Regions from separate parts of the Homo sapiens genome. Here all the other regions are linked to region 1. Evidence: fine-mapped expression QTL. A gene starts in region 1. Each other region holds a variant in brackets. All regions are shown on one strand. Distances are between the middles of the regions.

Region 1 (2,686 bases):
TGGATTGTGAGAGCTCAAGAGTATGTCTGTGGAGGATGCATTAGGACTGAGTTGGGGGGTCATGACATTTGATCCCTGAAAGCAAGAAAACAGCTTCCACTCTCGGATATGGTTTCCTCTTTTCTTTGATTGCAACTGGTTGTCATGATCCCTCCAGTCCATCTTGGGTGCAGAAACCCTGGGGATTGCCAAAGGCTCCTTTCTGAACCATCTTTTCAAACATGCGGGACATTCCCTGTCCAAGTGAGCTGCAAGGACAAAATAGAAATTTGTGGATGCAAAATGAGATTACTGATGTGGTTGCTGAAACTTATAAAACTCCCTCAGTGATAGGGGTTGTGGTGGCCTGTAAAGGGGATAATGATGACACCTTCAAGCTCTCCTTTTATACCACACAGCCGGTGGAGTCAGGACTTAGGTTCGAATCCAGTCAAGCTATATACATCTGTGTGACTTGGGCAGACACTTTTCCTCTTTTAAGTATCAGTTTCCTCACCTGTAAAATAGGAGTGATAAAACCTACCAAACCTGTGAGATGTCCCCATGACAGAGCACCCAGCACAGGCCACGTAAGGGCTTTCCTGATGTAAGCTTAAGCAGGACAGGCTCGGGCTCAGGACTGAGGCCTCTGGAGCCACCCTCCTACAGGCTGGGTGGCCATGGATAATGTGCTTCACCTCTCTGAAGTCTCGGTTTTCTCACCTGTAAATTGGCCGTAATAACACCTAGGGTATATTTCCTAGGGCTATTGGGAGAACCAGTTAGAATATATTTTTCACATAAAATGTCATTCAGGTAATTATGGCTGTTTAAAGCCTTATAAACTTAGATCTTGCCCTTGTAGACAGAAATGAAACAATTGCTGTGACTGGGTCTGATATCATAGCCAAACCCCTACACAAAACAACAGACTTATCATTCAAACAAATCAGTGAAAATAATTGGTCTTGTAAGTTGTCAATACCCTGTGCAACAAAAGCATTGGTGGAATGACCTTGAGCATTAAGGGGGAGTTGTAGGGATATCTTCTAGAGAAAAGATGGAGTTGTCACCTCCCATGTGCTCTGCTACATCTTCTCTTTAACTTTTCCCTTTGCCCAAAGCAACATGGACCATCTGTTTAATCAACCTCCACCACAACTCCATTCCCCAGTAAGCCAAGTCAGCAACTACTCAAATGCCTCATTCTAAGATGTGCTGATGGAGTGTGGCCTGCCTCAGAGGGTCTCTCCCTTCAAATAGGTCTATATTGTCTGGTTTGTTTGTGAACAGAGCCAGGTAGGTGCCGTGTGGCTCAGAGAGGTGGCTGGAAGTGACCTTCCATGACTCAATTCCACAGGTTTGTTTGCAAGAACACAGACACACGAGTGGCCACTGACAATATGTGTTCCAACATTATATACGGGGTATATTTTGCTCAGAAACATGCCCTGTTAGTTGTTGAAACCTTTTTTGCATTCCCTGAAACAAACGACACTATGGTGTATTTTCTTTTGGGGGGCAGTAAATAAAAGTCTTTTATGTTGACAATGATAATATTATATTCTACAATCTATTTGCATTTCTCTATCCTGTGGATTTTATTGCTTAGTATAAATCCCCAGGCTGAGGTGCATTAAGCTTCACTCAGAGAGAAACAATGCATTTTATCATAGGGCCGGACAGCTATATGCACAAGATGCTACCTGCAGAGATTGGTTTTTGCCCAGATGTGCAGGAGAGATGCACAGAGAGGAAGAAATGCATACATGTGTGCAGGTTTTGGCGTGTGCACAAGAAGCCTGGAAGGATTTTCTTTGGATCTACAGTCAAAATGGATTTCCGAGAGGAAGCTGTCTGAAAACACACCTCTTCCCTGTGCTACATACGGTCCCATCTCTGCCAGCCAGGTTGTCAGGAAAGTGATCAGCACTGGCTTCAACTCTGGCTAGAGCTCTTTGGCCAATGTGATGGGCAGAAAACTGGAATGAGGACAGAAAAGCACCTCAGAGGTTTGAAGAGTCTAGTCTCTCACCACCTTGCTGTAGGTTTTCTGAATACTTCTGAGTTTAGGAGCATTTTTTCTCAACAGGCAAGTCAGGAGCTGCTAAGATAAACCATGGCAGTAAGCTCGAGCCAGTGTTCGTATTTGCCATTGATCGGCCACCAAGTGCTTGCTATGTGCCATGCATTGTGCTAAGCACTATCTCATTTAATATTTACAGCAATCTTATGAGGTAGATGCTACTGTTATCTCCATTTTACAGATGGGGAAACTGAGGCACAGAGTTCCACAGCTGGTAACTTGAGGAATAGGAATTCAACCACTGGAGAGTCTGGCTGGAGTTTTTTGTGGTAGGAGAAAATATGCTGTCTAAATTTGCCTTGGGAAACCATCATGGTGGTCACAAAACCACTTCTACGGCTTGCCTTGACCTAGCAGGAATGAAGATGTAAAGAAAGAATGAGCGCGTCATGGTTATGATGGGATGATGATGTCTGTTGTGTTGTTTGGTGTCAGTTTCTGTAACGCCTTTCTATTTCAATCAAGGCTATTATCTTTTCCTCTGTTTTAGTGAAGTTTCCTTGAAGTAGAAAATGGGAGTGTATTGGGCATCTCAGAGTTTTCAGCTGAACTGAAGGGTCTGATGGTAACTTTACCCCCAAATCTCTGAGAGAAAAGCAGGGAGTCCCTGCTTCAGCTCTG
Region 2 (2,686 bases), 45 kb before region 1:
GCGCACGGTGTGCGAGCCGAAGCAGGGCGAGGCATTGCCTCACTTGGGAAGTGCAAGGGGTCAGGGAGTTCCCTTTCCGAGTCAAAGAAAGGGGTGACGGACGCACCTGGAAAATCGGGTCACTCCCACCTGAATATTGCGCTTTTCAGACCGGCTTAAAAAACGGCGCACCACGAGATTATATCCCGCACCTGGCTTGGAAGGTCCTACGCCCACGGAGTCTCGCTGATTGCTAGCACAGCAGTCTGAGATCAAACTGCAAGGCAGCAGCGAGGCTGGGGGAGGGGCGCCCACCATTGCCCAGGCTTGATTAGGTAAACAAAGCAGCTGGGAAGCTCGAACTGGGTGGAGCCCACCACAGCTCAAAGAGGCCTGCCTGCCTCTGTAGGCTCCACCTCTGGGGGCAGGGCACAGACAAACAAAAAGACAGCAGTAACCTCTGCAGACTTAAATGTCCCTGTCTGACAGCTTTGAAGAGAGCAGTGGTTCTCCCAGCACGCAGCTGGAGATCTGAGAACGGGCAGACTGCCTCCTCAAGTGGGTCCCTGACCCCTGACCCGGCTAACTGGGAGGCACCCCCCAGCAGGGGCACACTGACACCTCACACGGCAGGGTATTCTAACAGACCTGCAGCTGAGGGTCCTGTGTGTCAGAAGGAAAACTAACAAACAGAAAGGACATCCACACCAAAAACCCATCTGTACATCACCATCATCAAAGACCAAAAGTAGATAAAACCACAAAGATGGGGAAAAAACAGAACAGAAAAACTGGAAACTCTAAAACGCAGAGCGCCTCTCCTCCTCCAAAGGAACACAGTTCCTCACCAGCAACAGAACAAAGCTGGATGGAGAATGACTTTGACGAGCTGAGAGAAGAAGGCTTCAGACGATCAAATTACTCTGAGCTAACGGGAGGACATTCAAACCAAAGGCAAAGAAGTTGAAAACTTTGAAAAAAATTTAGAAGAATGTATAACTAGAATAACCAATACAGAGAAGTGCTTAAAGGAGCTGATGGAGCTGAAAACCAAGGCTCGAGAACTACGTGAAGAATGCAGAAGTCTCAGGAGCCGATGAGATCAACTGGAAGAAAGGGTATCAGCAATGGCAGATGAAATGAATGAAATGAAGCGAGAAGGGAAGTTTAGAGAAAAAAGAATAAAAAGAAATGAGCAAAGCCTCCAAGAAATATGGGACTATGTGAAAAGACCAAATCTACGTCTGATTGGTGTACCTGAAAGTGATGGGGAGAATGGAACCAAGTTGGAAAACACTCTGCAGGATACTATCCAGGAGAACTTCCCCAATCTAGCAAGGCAGGCCAATGTTCAGATTCAGGAAATACAGAGAACGCCACAAAGATACTCCTCGAGAAGAGCAACTCCAAGACACATAATTGTCAGATTCACCAAAGTTGAAATGAAGGAAAAAATGTTAAGGGCAGCCAGAGAGAAAGGTCGGGTTACCCTCAAAGGGAAGCCCATCAGACTAACAGCGGATCTCTTGGCAGAAACCCTACAAGCCAGAAGAGAGTGGGGGCCAATATTCAACATTCTTAAAGAAAAGGATCTTCAACCCAGAATTTCATATCCAGCCAAACTAAGCTTCATAAGTGAAGGAGAAATAAAATACTTTACAGACAAGCAAATGCTGAGAGATTTTGTCACCACCAGGCCTGCCCTAAAAGAGCTCCTGAAGGAAG[T/C]GCTAAACATGGAAAGGAACAACTGGTACCAGCCGCTGCAAAATCATGCCAAAATGTAAAGACCATCGAGACTAGGAAGAAACTGCATCAACTAATGAGCAAAATCACCAGCTAACATCATAATGACAGGATCAAATTCACACATAACAATATTAACTTTAAATGTAAATGGACTAAATGCTCCAATTAAAAGACACAGTCTGGCAAATTGGATAAAGAGTCAAGACCCATCAGTGTGCTGTATTCAGGAAACCCATCTCACGTGCAGAGACACACATAGGCTCAAAATAAAAGGATGGAGGAAGATCTACCAAGCAAATGGAAAACAAAAAAAGGCAGGGGTTGCGATCCTAGTCTCTGATAAAACAGACTTTAAACCAACAAAGATCAAAAGAGACAAAGAAGGCCATTACATAATGGTAAAGGGATGTATTCAACAAGAAGAGCTAACTATCCTAAATATATATGCACCCAATACAGGAGCACCCAGATTCATAAAGCAAGTCCTGAGTGACCTACAAAGAGACTTAGACTCCCACACATTAATAATGGGAGACTTTAACACCCCACTGTCAATATTAGACAGATCAATGAGACAGAAAGTCAACAAGGATACCCAGGAATTGAACTCAGCTCTGCACCAAGCGGACCTAATAGACATCTACAGAACTCTCCACCCCAAATCAACAGAATATACATTTTTTTCAGCACCACACCACACCTATTCCAAAATTGACCATATACTTGGAAGTAAAGCTCTCCTCAGCAAATGTAAAAGAACAGAGATTATAACAAACTATCTCTCAGACCACAGTGCAATCAAACTAGAACTCAGGATTAAGAATCTCACTCAAAACCACTCAACTACATGGAAACTGAACAACCTGCTCCTGAATGACTACTGGATACATAACGAAATGAAGGCAGAAATAAAGATGTTCTTTGAAACCAACGAGAACAAAGACACAACATACCAGAATCT
Region 3 (2,686 bases), 49 kb before region 1:
TTGGTTGCTGAGCCTTTATGAGTGTGAAGGTGGCAGTGAGGACACAGCAGAGAGATCATGAAGGAACTCCTGTGCCATGCTGCAGATCCCACCTCTAGACACCATGAACCGTGTCTGACCTCCTGAGTCCTTATGTTTCCTAACACTATTAATGACTGGGGGTGAAATAGAGATGCAGAAACCAAAACCAAAACCAAAAACAGAGCAACCCGAGGCAAGAATATTGTAATAGTGACTATTTAAATGACCCCTTCATATGAAGTTAAAAATATATGCATTTCAAATTACATATATATATATATAGATATGTAGATATATATATATATATATACACACGCATGCACATATTTTATCTATTTTTTTTTGAGATGGAGTTTCCTTCTTGTTACCCAGGCTGGAGTGCGGCAATGGCGCAATCTCGGCTCACTGCAACCTCTGCCTCCCAGGTTCAAGCAATTCTCCTGCCTCAGCCTCCCAAGCAGCTGGGATTACAGGCGCACACCAGCACGCCCAGCTAATATTTTTCTATTTTCTAGTAGAGACAGGGTTTCACCATGTTGGTCAAGCTGGTCTCAAACTCCTGACCTCAGGTGATCCACCGGCCTTAGCCTCCCAAAGTGCTGGGATTACAGGGGTGAATTACTGCACCCGGCCCATATTTTATCTTTATCTATGGTTTGTTGGATGTTTATGAGGAATTTTTTCAAAGTTCTATAGCAGAAATCATTAAACTAATTGCCACATTTACATTTTTTCCCCCCACAATCCTCATCACTTGAAGAGGCAGCATATATTATGCAGATAAAAAAACTGAAAGTGAAGTTCCTGCTTTTCATTCCAATGTTGACTCATCTCCCTATCTTGACTCTTTCAGGACTTTCTGTCTGTGTCAGATATTATTGACTACTTCAGGAAAATGCCACTTCTGCTCATTGATGGGAAAAACCGAGGTTCCAGATACCAGTGCACATTAACGCATGCTGCAGGGTACCCATAGCAAGTTATAGCCGAGCAAATGAACCGTCCTCCTGCCTCTGTTGCCAACACGAGATCAATCAGCCTTGGTCAATGGACAAACACTTAGGACTGAACTGAACCCCTCCCCATGAACACAAGGGTTTTATCCTTTCCTTTAAAAACAGTGTTTGAAATGAAGACTGTCAACTATCCCATAATTTATTTATTCTTCTTCAATGTTTGTAAAGTGCATGAGTCATGTTCACACTTGAAGTCTAGTAGTGCACTGTAATAATTCATTTTTTAAAAGATTATTTAATGCCCATTTCAAAATACAGTAGTTTACACAGCTACAGAAACAATTTGGGGCAAGTTTTAAAACACTGAAACAGTAATAGTTATTGGTGTCACATAAAACTGATTTGTTTTTTACAGCCAAACCTCTGTCAGTCAGAGGCATTCATTAGTTTTATACATGTAATTTGAAAATCACTAAACCTCGTTTTCTCAGCAGCAATAATTTAAGAGGCTTCAAAAATATAATTTCACTCTTATTTAGTATTTTTTCCTGGGGGCATTTTTACGTAATTTTTT[T/A]ATGAAAAGACAAATGCATGTTGAGATAACTTCTGGGATTAAAATAGTCTTTTGCTTTACTTTTTTGGTTTCCTAAAACAACTTTATTGACTTTTAGTCCATACTGTTATATTTTTGTCTTAAAGAAAATTTAAACTACAAATACCAAAAGAAAACATTTTAAATTTAGGGATGAGACTTTGGTGTATCGTGGGTCTAGGTTTAATGAACACATCTGGGGTTAAGTTGGCATTTCTTCACATCTCCACACCCACACCAACCATCACAGCCCCCCACCAACCTTCTCCCAACCCCAAAAGCATTGTCCAGGGATATAGATTTTACCAAAGGCTTCCTGGGAAGACGAGGGAGCAACACTTTAGATTAAATGTGATCAGACTTTCCTATTAGATATGGCTCTTCTGTCTCTTGTTATCCCCCTGACAGCTCTGCCATAAAGTCCCTTCTCCTCATCCTTCCCAAACAGGCTGTATAAGTGCTTTGAGGTAATTAAACTCTTTCCTCCAGTTTACAAATATCACTTAACAAAAAATATAGGCATTCAGCCAGATTAAAAAACTGGTATTCAGCCAAATAGTGACAATCAGTTGTTCTTCAAGTTTTTCCCTTTGGGACCTTGGTTGTTATTGCACAACTTTTATTAGCAACAATTTTTGGCGTCTCTGCTTAATCTACAAGTTTTCGAAATGGAAAAGAGTATCTTGCAGCTTCATTTTCATGAGCTAATAAAAGGGGTATTGGAAGGAATCTAAGAAGTCACCATTTTAAAACTGATGATATGTTAAAATAAGGAGTATGCAGAAGGTAGAGACTTTTAACTGATGATAAAAATGGTGTTTCACAAAATCTCATCCTTAACAACCAGAAGTTCTCAGTTTAGGGTCCAAAACTTGGGAGTTTAAGGCTGAAAACCCTGCATTCATTTACACGTCTACACAACGGGCTATTCAGCAAGTATTTACTTAGTGGCTCTTCTGTGTTAAACAAGTGAGCTAGGTACAAGGTAGTAAGGATAGCATACACCATAGGTTCTAGTATCGAGTAAGCTCCACTTGTCTTGCTTTGCCGTATTCTATCTTTACAATTCAAAAATATCTAAAATGAAGGACCTGATAGATTTCAAAGCAACTATTTG

Which allele goes with the higher level. Positions count from the first base shown, and alleles are read on the strand shown. Sizes are in standard deviations (SD) of each study's normalised expression. Not every link is listed here.
In carriers of allele T in region 2, the expression in NK cells of the gene that starts at base 1,624 in region 1 tends to be lower than with C alone (large effect, 0.94 SD a copy in Schmiedel 2018).

The links. PIP is the estimated chance that this variant, and not a neighbour inherited with it, causes the effect. A credible set is the group of variants that fine-mapping cannot tell apart.
Region 2: its variant is the best candidate, but not a certain one, in a credible set for the expression of LINC01187 in NK cells (Schmiedel 2018, PIP 0.87).
Region 3: its variant is the best candidate, but not a certain one, in a credible set for the expression of LINC01187 in whole blood (TOPMed, PIP 0.54).

Annotation. Positions count from the first base shown.
Region 1 is chr5:170,198,079-170,200,764 of GRCh38, reverse strand. It overlaps LINC01187 (long intergenic non-protein coding RNA 1187), which reads left to right and starts at 1,624. Exons shown (of 5, transcript NR_108022.1): 1 at 1,624-2,023.
Region 2 is chr5:170,242,960-170,245,645 of GRCh38, reverse strand. All of the region lies in intron 3 of C5orf58 (chromosome 5 open reading frame 58), which reads right to left. Among named protein-coding and RNA genes, the nearest start is that of C5orf58, 11 kb to the right of the region's middle. The variant T/C (reference allele first, on the strand shown) is at 1,705.
Region 3 is chr5:170,247,008-170,249,693 of GRCh38, reverse strand. LCP2 (lymphocyte cytosolic protein 2) reads left to right here. Exons shown (of 21, transcript NM_005565.5): 21 at 875-2,686. The coding sequence ends at 997. It also overlaps a transcript of C5orf58 not described here. Among named protein-coding and RNA genes, the nearest start is that of C5orf58, 15 kb to the right of the region's middle. The variant T/A (reference allele first, on the strand shown) is at 1,552.